Linked DNA regions of Homo sapiens: region 2 is linked to region 1. A link means that fine-mapping ties the variant in region 1 to the expression of a gene that starts in the linked region. Tissue or cell type: breast. Region 1 holds a variant in brackets; the other region holds the start of a gene. All regions are shown on one strand. Distances are from middle to middle.

The links. PIP is the estimated chance that this variant, and not a neighbour inherited with it, causes the effect.
Region 2: CCNA1 starts here. The variant in region 1 is the best candidate, but not a certain one, in a credible set for the expression of CCNA1 in breast (GTEx, PIP 0.55).

Annotation. Positions count from the first base shown.
Region 1 is chr13:36,286,025-36,291,402 of GRCh38, reverse strand. All of the region lies in intron 1 of CCDC169-SOHLH2 (CCDC169-SOHLH2 readthrough), which reads left to right. The region is part of intron 2 of CCDC169 (coiled-coil domain containing 169); the gene reads left to right. Among named protein-coding and RNA genes, the nearest start is that of CCDC169, 9.1 kb to the left of the region's middle. The variant A/G (reference allele first, on the strand shown) is at 2,204.
Region 2 is chr13:36,429,962-36,435,339 of GRCh38, reverse strand. CCNA1 (cyclin A1) reads right to left here and starts at 2,845. Exons shown (of 9, transcript NM_001413923.1): 1 at 2,611-2,845; 2 at 2,119-2,307. The coding sequence starts at 2,283. RefSeq lists silencers at 2,952-3,111, 3,142-3,191, 3,472-3,541.

The DNA of each region.
Region 1 (5,378 bases):
GAAGAGATAACAGAAGACTATAACTATAAAGGCATAACTGTTTAGTCCAAATTCTTACTTATTTAACATAAGAGATTTCATACAGGAAACTCTAGAATAAAATAAATTTGGGAAAGCTTTGCAGCATTAACACATGTTTGCTGAGCTTCTGAGAGACTTTGTTAGTAAGTGAAACATAACAGTGTGTATCTTATTGCTACAGAGTCTGTCTTGTCAGTCTTATGTGATCTCTATTTTAATGTTAATGCTGGTCATTTGTGCCTAAACTCCAAATTGGGGGAAGGTATAGTGTGGCATGTCCAACCCTCCACTTCTCATAATGGCCTGAACTAGTTTGTCAGGTTTCTTTGGGATTCCCTTTGGCCAAGAGGTGGATACATTCAGTCTGTTGAGGGGGCTTAGGATTTTTTTTTTTTTTAGTTTATATTCCCCCTTTTTTGGTCAAGGTATGCAGAGGTGGTATCCATAGCTAAGCTTTTATTAACTTAAGTTCTGGGATGGTGTGGCTACTTGCCCCTGGTCCATCGTGCCTCTCAGTGGGACCCCTATTGCCAAGGAACTTAGAGTCAAAGACTTAAATCCAATTAAACGTTTTAGGCCAGATGGGAGTGGAGGTGAGCAGGTATTCAGTAATCTTTAAAACCCCTTTTAGGCAACATAAGAGCCAAAAACCAAAACTCAAAAAATAAGATTATAAAGTTGAGTTATCTATAAATTCTCTGCATTGAGATACTGTAATCTTGACTTATAGCAATTAGCTGTACAAAACACAAGCATATTGTTCAGCTGTTTAGGCATCTGTGTGTCTGTCCTTGATTTGGAGGGTCTTAATTAATTTTATCCCTCAAAATCTGGCCCTTACAATGATACACTTCTGCGATAGCCCCTGGGCCTGGAGGGATTCAATAGTTTCAAATTCTGGAGGTAAAAAAAAATGTAAAGTATTAGCAGTGTTTCAAACAAAAAGGTAATAAGCCCTGCCTAGTTCTGACAGTTACAGGAAAGGAAACTTATAGGTAGCTAAACATTTAAATTATTTAGTGTCAATTTAGGCACTAAATTTAAACATTTAAATTATTTAGTATCTATTTATTTAGGCACAGAATAAATTATATTATTTTAGATAGAGGCAAAATTATTAAGAGAATCTTAATTTTTTTGTGGTACAGGCGTGTCCCTGTGTCTCATGAAAGTAGTTTACTATGATTGTCATCTTTGCCCAGATCTAAAAATGGGGCTTCGGTTAACTTAGATTTGCTGTCAGATACTGGCAGGAGTCACTGCCTTCTTTAGATGAGATATGTGTACCCAGGAGTCAAAGCCCTGTAACTTCATAGCACAAGGATTAGTTAATAACACCTGATAAGGACCTTTTTTTTAAGGGGCTGGAGGTGGTGACACTGGAGTCTATGACTTGACTGGAAGCTGTAAAAAGATTCTATAACCTTGCAGTGATTAACTTTTATAGCTTTGATAAACACCAGCAATAAGCCAGAGACTTAATTTTTGTTTCAATTTTGAAGATGTTTCTTAAAAATGTTAAAGGGCTCAAAACATTTGATTAAAACAGATCCACAGGTCATTGTAAACCAATAGTTACTAATTTAACCAAAATGATTATTGAAAGACTTAAAGGCAATACAGAAGGTTACATGCATATAACAACTTTCAGCCTTTTAGGTCTCAGTTTTTCTAAGCAGTTAAAAATCTAATGAAGACAACATATGAATTATTTTGATAAAAAGTAAAATGTTGTTTCTTACGCCAGTTACCAGAAAGGCAAAGAAAAACCTGCAGTGTGACTACTTTTCCTTATAGGAAGCCTATTTAGACAACCTGGAAGTTAAACCTGATGAAAAATATTCTTGAATTTAATCAGACATAGGAAGAATGTGTTCAGGGTTATGAGTATAGCAGAGGAATACATAGTTCTTAGTAACTGCATGAGAAGTTTCTTGATTACATTGAAAAATTTACATCTATCAAGAAAGCCAAGAGTACAGAATCAAATTATACTGAAGGAAAATATTGCTTTTCTAGACCTTTAAGATAAAACATTTTAGCATCAGGCCACAACAGTGGAACCAGAGGAAAAAAGTTACAGAAGCTAATTTAGAAGCTGAAGGAGAGAGCTGTCATCTCAGACCTTCTCAGGGGGAGAAAAAGCTGAAAGCAGTGAGACAGCAATAGTTGAACTTCTGAG[A/G]TATGATTCTGAGAAGCTTTTAAAAGAAACAGTTTCTAAAATTTTAAAAATCTCTTGTAATTTTATTAAGAGAAAAGTAATACCTTAAGAAAACCTTGTTTTAAGATAGGGGATCAATCTTAGAAAGACTATTAAAAATAATTCCCTTCTAATTATAGCCAACTTAATATATAAAATAGCTTTTGTAATTTTCCTTTTATGAACCTTATCATAACTTACATAGACCATTTATTACATGCTTGGACTTTCTGACTTGTCCTAAAATTTTCTGTTTTCTGAATAACTAGCCATTTTATTTTAGGATAAGAATTTACTATATAAAATCTTTCTCATGTAAAATTATTTGCTTGTTTTATAACTTTTTTATTATAAATACATTTTTGTATCCACAACTTTCTTTATATCTCTCTCCCCTACTCACTGATTCTTTTTTACCTTCTTTTAGAAATAACTTTTAAATAACCTTTGAATTACTTAAATTACTCTTTTTTAAAAAATGAGAACACAACTTGCAGAATTATATATTAGAATTCTTAGTAACCTTAAATTTTAGTGAAAACTTAGGAAGCAAGAAATCCTGAACTGTTTATCAGATGTTAGGATTTTCTGGATGAAACCATTCTACAATTTTAGAAATATGTTTTCCCATATCATAATCTTTTCTTAATTGGAAATGTCCCAGAAATCAAATTATTATCTATTGGATTGGAGCATCTATTATTTAATTCAAAATAATTTTAAGATTTTAACTTACACAAAAAGTCCACTTACAAGCATTTATCTCATTTACATGTATTCACCTTTTCCATTTCTTAATAGTTTATCTAGATTACTTCTGAAAACTGAGATATTACACAAAACTAATCATTATTTAAAGTTATTTCCGGGTCGGGCACGGTGGCTCACGCCTGTAATCCCAGCACTTTGGGAGGCTGCGGCGGGCGGATAATGAGGTCAGAAGATCGAGACCATCCTGGTGGCTAACATGGTGAAACCCTGTCTCTACTAAAAAAATACAGAAAAATTAGCCAGGCATGGTGATGGGCGCCTGTAGTCCCAGCTACTCGGGAGGCTGAGGCAGAAGAATGGCGTGAATCAGGGAGGTGGAGCTTGCAGTGAGCCAAGATTGCGCCACTGCACTCTAGCCTGGGTGACAGAGCGAGACTCCATCTCAAAAAAAAAAATTAAAAATAAATAATAAAGTTATTTCCCTATTAACCATTTTTAAAATCTGAACACTAAATGGTGAGCACCTAATTAAGAACCTTAAAATTAAATGTATTTGCTGATGACTCTGAAGATTTAGCTGTTTCATTGAACTAACAAGTTAGTCTTATTTGTCAAAAAAAAATACACAAAGATTATTCTGTTTTTGGTTGAGTTTAAAGTCTTAGAACCTTTATGTCAACCCTTGACACCTTTGTATACACACTGATACAAATATAAAACCACTTAGACAAAAATGTATGGGGACAATTCTGAAGACCTTTCTATTTTTATCAATAATTTTAAAACCACTTTTATTTATTAAAAATTCACATGCACTTGAAAAGCATTTGGACTTAATTTTTGAGTACTCATTTACTTATAAGCCAGTTTGATAACATGCTAGACACAACGCAGAACATAATACATGAATATTACATAAATATATCTAAACATGTATACATACATGCACAAAGAAATAACCAATAGCTTTTACCTTGGAACTCCAGCCATGAGACAGCATTACAAACTCACAGACCTACAAAAGATAGCTGGCTTCAAGTTCTTTTTCTGACAAAATTGGAACCTGTTCATATGGCCAAACTTCATTTGCCCTAATAGGTAATCCAAGGAAATTTGTGAACCAAAATTTTGGGTAAAGGAGTCTCTATGGCAGTTTTTTTAAACCGCTTTTACCCTTGTTATTTTTTATTTTCAGTTTCAAACAACTTTCCAGTGTTTACATTCTAGTTAGATCATAAATGAGTCCTAGCACCAGCAGCTTAGTAACAGCAGATTTAAAGCAGGCAGAAAAGAGGGGAAGAGGGAAGATAGCTTTAGAAGACTCTACTTAACTCTATAGCTTCAGGTTAACTATTTGAGCTCTAAATTTTTCTTGCTGTAATTTGCCCGTCAGTTTAAAATGTACACAAAAATGCACCATATGTAATCAGCTGCAGTCCCAAAGAGGATGACAAAATCAGGGGCCAGGATGTTGAAAATTGTTTTTTCTCTTCAGTACTGGTTTCCTGGTTTGAACAGGAAAAGAGAAAAAGAAAGGAGTGGAGAGGAGAAAGGAGGTCAGGTTTTATGGGCAGGAAGAGGAAAGAGAAAAGAAGGAAGGGAGGTTTATGAGCCTTCCAGCCACTGCACAGTACCCCTACCTCTCTTGTTTATCTCCTCTTAGGGAGAGCCTCAGCACCCTAGAACTGAAGGGTGTGGGATGAATCCCTCCCATTTCCTCAAGTCACCAGTCAAGGTAAACTGTTTCCAGCCAGAGGGAGCGAAGGGTGGTTTTGGCTGAGAAGAGTAGGGCTGTAGATGGCTTCTGAGATAATCAGGATGATGAAGTTGGAAAAAAGGGGAAAGAGAGAGAGAAAGAGAGACAAAGAGATCAGGGTGCACAAAGATCTCACACACGGACAAACAGGTGGTGTGCATCCAAACAAATCCCTGGTTAAGGGGCTGTGTAGACTCCGAAATCCCTCATTTCAGTTTCAAATGGCTCCCCCAGGCAACTGAGTCAGAACTGAGCAAAGGCCCAAGGGTGCAGCAAATACAAACAAAACCAATGCATAAAATGCTCATATAGTTTCACTGGCAGCCAAGTCTAAATAAAGCAGAGCCCCAGCGACACCCCAAAAGAGGCAGAAGGTGGTTGGGTACACTCTGACTAATGCACCTAGTTCCATAGTTTCTCAGCTTCTCCAGAGGTCACTTTCTTTGCACCAGTGAAGCATTGAAGGTAGCAGACACCATAGCAGGAAGAAAAGAGAGGATCCCTAAGACAAAAGAGTCTTGGCAGCTGCTGGGAAATTCCCTAATATCCTAGCCATGGGTCAGCTAGCCATCAGCAACTAGTATTCACAGGTGGCCCTATGCCCCATCTGATAGAAACCAGACTGGCAGGCTCAGGCCCTGGAGCATACAGCACTCACCATACGGGACACTAAAATTGTAACCAGCAATT
Region 2 (5,378 bases), 140 kb before region 1:
TGGACACACAACAGTGAACATGACAACCTAAATCAACACCTGGATGGAGCTTACATGTTAGTGGGAAAGGCAACATTATATATGTCAAGATACGACAAACTCTCAAGATATGTGGCTTTAAATGGGATAGCTTCTGTCCCATTACTTAAATTTCTTTAAGCACTTAAATTACTTTAATCGACATAATGCAAACAGCTCCTAGACCTATTTCCTTGATATTGGAAAACTAACAAAGAAAATTCGTCACCATTTCTAGCTGAAAAAGGGACCGGTCAAGGTGATTTTACAAAGTCAACTTCTTCCCTGTGGTCCAGATTCCAGGGTTGTAATACTCAGAGGGAGCGTTTAGTTGAAAGGTTTTTAAGATGGGAAAATGGCAATATATTTGTATGCTTACAGATTTGGCCCAGTAGAAAAGAAAAAACTCATGAGAGAAAGAAAAGTGGCTAGAGTAACATCCTTGAAGAAGCAAGAAGACACGAGTATATTGTACGCATGGCGCGGGGGGGGGGGCACCTCTCATGACAGCAGGGACATAGCAGTCACATAACAGGATGTAGATGGCAGATTATATGGCACACAGGGACATGTGGAGATTCTCTTCTGCTTGCTTCTATATTTTTAGGAAAATAAGATACAAAGTGATCAGCTGAGACTGGGCATGAAGGAGGAGGTTACTGAGGATTAAACAGAGAAGGGAAGGTACAAAATAGATTTCTAAGCAGGTTGTAGAGGATAGGTACAGGGAAATGCAGAAGTGGCACCAGGTAACATAAGAGGTTAGCAACTGGGAATTTAAAATGCGACCATTCAACACAGGCACAACTGACAATTCATAAGAACCAAGTCTCAGGCGTTAAGTTTTAAAAAGCAAACATTGCTAAGCAAATTAAAATTTGTTAAAACCACTTCCACTCAATTTTCTCCAAAGCTTTGAACAGAGCATGTGAAGAGTCAGTAGATGAGAGGCTTCTAATCTAGTTTCTACCATAGCTTTCTTTTGGCAGAGGCTTAAACCTTTCAGATTTTCTCACTTATGAAATAGGAAAGGTATAGTTTTCAGTCTGGTTAAGGTATCTATGATCAGTTAAGTTCACACAACTAATATCTGAGGGACCATTACCTGTTAGCATAGCTGCTTAGTCAGTACTGGGAAGATGTCTGCCTTCAAAGCACCCATTTTGGAGTAATCTAATCTAGCCTGATCTAATCCTGATTTTAACACTATCCGCAATGAACACAGCCAAGATTATCCAGGTTTGCTTTAGGCACAGCCTGCATCAATGTGAACACTGCTCTAACCTGGAGGAACCCCAGTTCCACAGTTTATTTGGAAGCATTCACATTTCCTTTTAGCCCAGCCCTTAAATTACTTTAATATACATAACCCAAACAGTTCCTAGACCTATTTCCTTGATAGTGGAAAAAATAACAAAGAAAACTAATCACTATTTCTAGCTGAAAACCGAACCCCTCAAGGTGATCTTAAGAAATCAACTGGCCTGCCACCGTGGCTGACGCCTGTAATCCCAACACTTTGGGAGGCCGAGGTGGGCGGGTCACCTGAGGTCAGGAGTTGGTGACCAGCCTGGCCAACATGGTGAAATCCCATCTCTACTAAAAACACAAAAATTAGCCGGGCGTGGTGGTGGGTGCCTGAAATCCCAGCTACTCGGGAGGCTGAGGCAGGAGAATCGCTTGAACCCGGGAGGTGGAGGTTGCAGTGAGCCGAGATCGCGTCACTGCACTCCAGCCTGGCGACAAGAGCGAAACTCCGTCTCAAAAAAAAAAAAAGAAGGAAAGGAAAGGAAAGAAAAAAAAAGGAAAGGAAGAAGGAAGAGAAACAAAGAAAAAGAAAGAAGGAAAGAAAGAGAAAGAAAAGAAAGAAAGAAAGAACGAAAGAAAGAAAGAAAGAAAGAAAGAAAGAAAGAAAGAAAGAAAGAAAGAAAGAAAGAAAGAAAGAAAGAAAATAAATCAATCAACTTTCCTGTAGTCCAGATTCCAGGGTTGTAATACTCAGGGGGAGTTGTAGGTACAAGGGCAAGAGAAAAGCACCTGGCACCAAAGCAGGAGAGCTGTTCTCCACAAGCATCATTCTCAATGCGTCTGAGTCATTACCTGGCCACAGGTCCTCCTGTACTGCCCATTTGCAGTTAGCAGCCCTAGCACTGTCCTCTGCGGGGGATCCTGGCCCAGCGGGGCTCTGGTGAGTATCTGACAAGCATCGGGACCTCGGGCCACTGTAGCCAGCACAACTCCACTCTTGGGGTTGCTGCAGTGCATTGCTTCAGACTCCACGGGCTGCTGCTACCAGGGAAAGAGAAACAGACAAGCTGTTTAGTCGATTCCGTCCACCCCGGGCTCCAAGGACACAGCGAACCTCTAGGAGGGAGAGCACCAAGCAATGGGACTAACACCAATTGCTGATCTTCCCAGTAATTATTGGGGCTGAAAGGGCAGGTGCGACCGCACAGGCGATCAAAGTTGCTCTGAATCAAAACAGTTATTTGAATCCCTGAGGGAGGCTTTTTATCCCAAGACTTCGTGTTGGGCTGGAAGGAGAGAAACATTCTGACAAGCCTCCAAGTCGGGATACTAAACCCACGTTACCTGGAAGACGAAATCTGGGAGCCCCGGTCCTTCCCAGCTGAGATACTCTTCTCCCCAGCCCCCAATAAAAGATCCAGGGTACATGATTGCGGGAAAGCCGGTCTCCATCCCAAGTGACGAGCAGGGTGCTGCGCTGCGGCCTCCTCCCACCAGACAGGAGGCCCCAAAACCTGCCTGGACCCCAAAGCGGGCCCCGCTCTTCCCGTCGTTATCTTTCTATGTGTCCGGAACAACTGGCAAGTGCACTGGAGGATCGCGGTTAAGAGGTGGCCGGCTGGGCGGGGCAGGGCGGGGCAGGGTTGGGCAGGGCCGGGCCGGGCCGGGCGGGGCAGGGCGGGGAAGGGCAGGGAAGGGCAGGGCACGGAAGGGCGGGGCGGGAAGGACCAAGTGTCGAGGGATTCCAGCCTGGGAGGCGGCCGGGCTTAGCGATGCGGCTGAGCTGCCCACCCGCGTCTGTTGAATCGGCCAATCAGCGGCGCCCCCGGACCTAGCGGGAGCGTTTCCATGCCGACCGCGGCAGGCGTGCGCTCTCCGGGGCCGCATCGCCATGGCGACCTGCTCACCTGACTCGCTCCGGGTGGACTCGCCGCGACCCCTGGGCGTTCAGGCCCCTGAGGGCCCAACGGGCGACGGCCCTCCAGCTCCAGCTGTGCGTCTCCGCCCGGGCGAGGTGGGGCTGACCGCGGCCGTCTGCACACGTCCCCTCTGGTCCGCGCCCCCGGCCTGGGAGGGCGGACTCGCCCACCCCACGATGGCCCCGGCTTTGGAAGGGACTGTTTCCGTGACCCGTTCTCCCAACAGCCGCTAACAACCCCCTCTAACGTCTCCTGCGCGGCCCGCTCCTGAGAACCCTGGCTCGGGAGAGCGACGCGGGGTCCTCGGGGCTGCGCAGGCTGCGGCGCCCTGCCCACGCTGGCCCGAGGGCGCGGCTCGCTCCGGGTCGGCTCACACACCTACGCTTCCTGCCGGGAGGCGGCTGGGACGCGGCGGGGCTGCCCCAAGTGCAGTCGCGGCAGTGTTGCGTCTCCATCGCGGGGGTCCTTGCGGGCCGCGCCTGCCCCGCCCGGCTCCCGGTGCATGTGGCCTGCGAGGCGGCAGAGGAGATGTGGGGATTTAGGGTCGCACGTCGTGCTCGAGGTCCCCACGAGAGGTCTTCCCCCGCGGGCTCCTGCGCAACTGCGTGAAGCCGGCCCGGGAAAGCCAAGATTGTGGCCCAGGAAGAGGAAGGAACGCGGGCGACAGAGCTGGGGCTTGGGACGTTGAGGGGGTCGGTGGCAGCTCTCCGGGCTGGGGGCCGGGCGGGCGGCCCGGCCGCGTGGGGAGAGGAGTCCCTGGGGTCCTTATACGGGGGGCTCCTGGAAACCCGGGGGCTCAGACGCCTGCATAGGTGACTGACAAGCCAGGTGAAATAATCGAACTTTATTTTTTTAAAAATAATATGTATATATGCACACACACATTACCAATGCTATAGTCTGTTACTACTTTTGCTTTTTTTAAAACATCCATCCCTAAATCTCTAAATCAGATCCAAAGTCTATTCAAATGGCCACTTTATGCAAGCAACGGTTATCACCGTTTTTCTAAGTGTGCGTTATTAACATTTTCACCAAGCAAACTGAGTGTGGACATTGCTTTAATGGGAAGATAGTAGTATTCTAACAAAAGCGCCGGTTGAAAGCCTTGCAGTTGAGGTAAATATTAAGAAGTTGGTAAGCATCTGGAGAATCAAGGCTGGATGAGGGAGGAACGCAGAAACGGATCTTGTTCAACATGAAACTCATTTCTATACGTTTGTCACAGACTTCTATTCCTTGAGAGACAGCAGTCCGCTTGCACCCCAGATTTCCTGTGCCTTTGAATATGAAGGAAACACGGGAATTCTGGTAACATCTAGATTGCCGCAACAGAGAGTCAGAGGCCAACGGGGACCAAATGCTCTGCTTCGAAAGGTGAATGAAAGGAGCATTTCTGTCCTCTTGCCTGACGCCACTATTGGATATCTTCCCGGGCGCCCTCCCCCACCTGCCAACAGTGTTGTTATTTCCTGGGTCGCTGAAGGACTCAGTGGCTAACTCCGTCTGGGACTCTACAGCAAGTCCTGCCAAGAGCCTGAGTCGCTTGGGAGCGGACAAGATTGGCTGCGCTCACGAGACCTGGTCCTTTGTACACCCCTTTTCATCTGATTTCCTTTGACAAAAATGACCGAAACCTCACGCCCTTTTCCTTTTCTCCAAAGTAGAGGCGCCGGCGCAGTGTTTGTTCGTGGAACCTGTCGTTTTGATCCACTTTTCTGGGATTGAAGCTGAAGCCAGTGTTGGAGTCGGGGCGTGCAGGGAGTGGGGAGCGCCCAACTCCTGCAGAGGCGGATCTGAGGCTGGTTTTTCTCAACTCAGATCTGGCCAGGACCAGATGACAAGGCTACAAAGGTGTCCAGTGACTTTCAGCCGTCTTTAGCCTTAAAAAAGCCTTAAGAAATAATAGTAACCAAATGAGACCTTCGGATAATTTAATACCCCTCCCCTTATCTGAATGGCTGCACCTTAATCCAGCCTTAATCTATATGAAATAGGATTATCATGAACATCTTTTTTCCTGTTCCATCCACTTTGCTAAACTTGGCAAAGGGAAGTGGTTAGTTTATGATTGTTTTATTGTGCTGTCTTAGAATTCTACATTGTCGTTACAAGCCTCTGGTCATATCTTAAACAGGAGAGTGAGTCCCATGAACTGATATCTATGTGTGCATGTAAATTCAGGTACGTGTA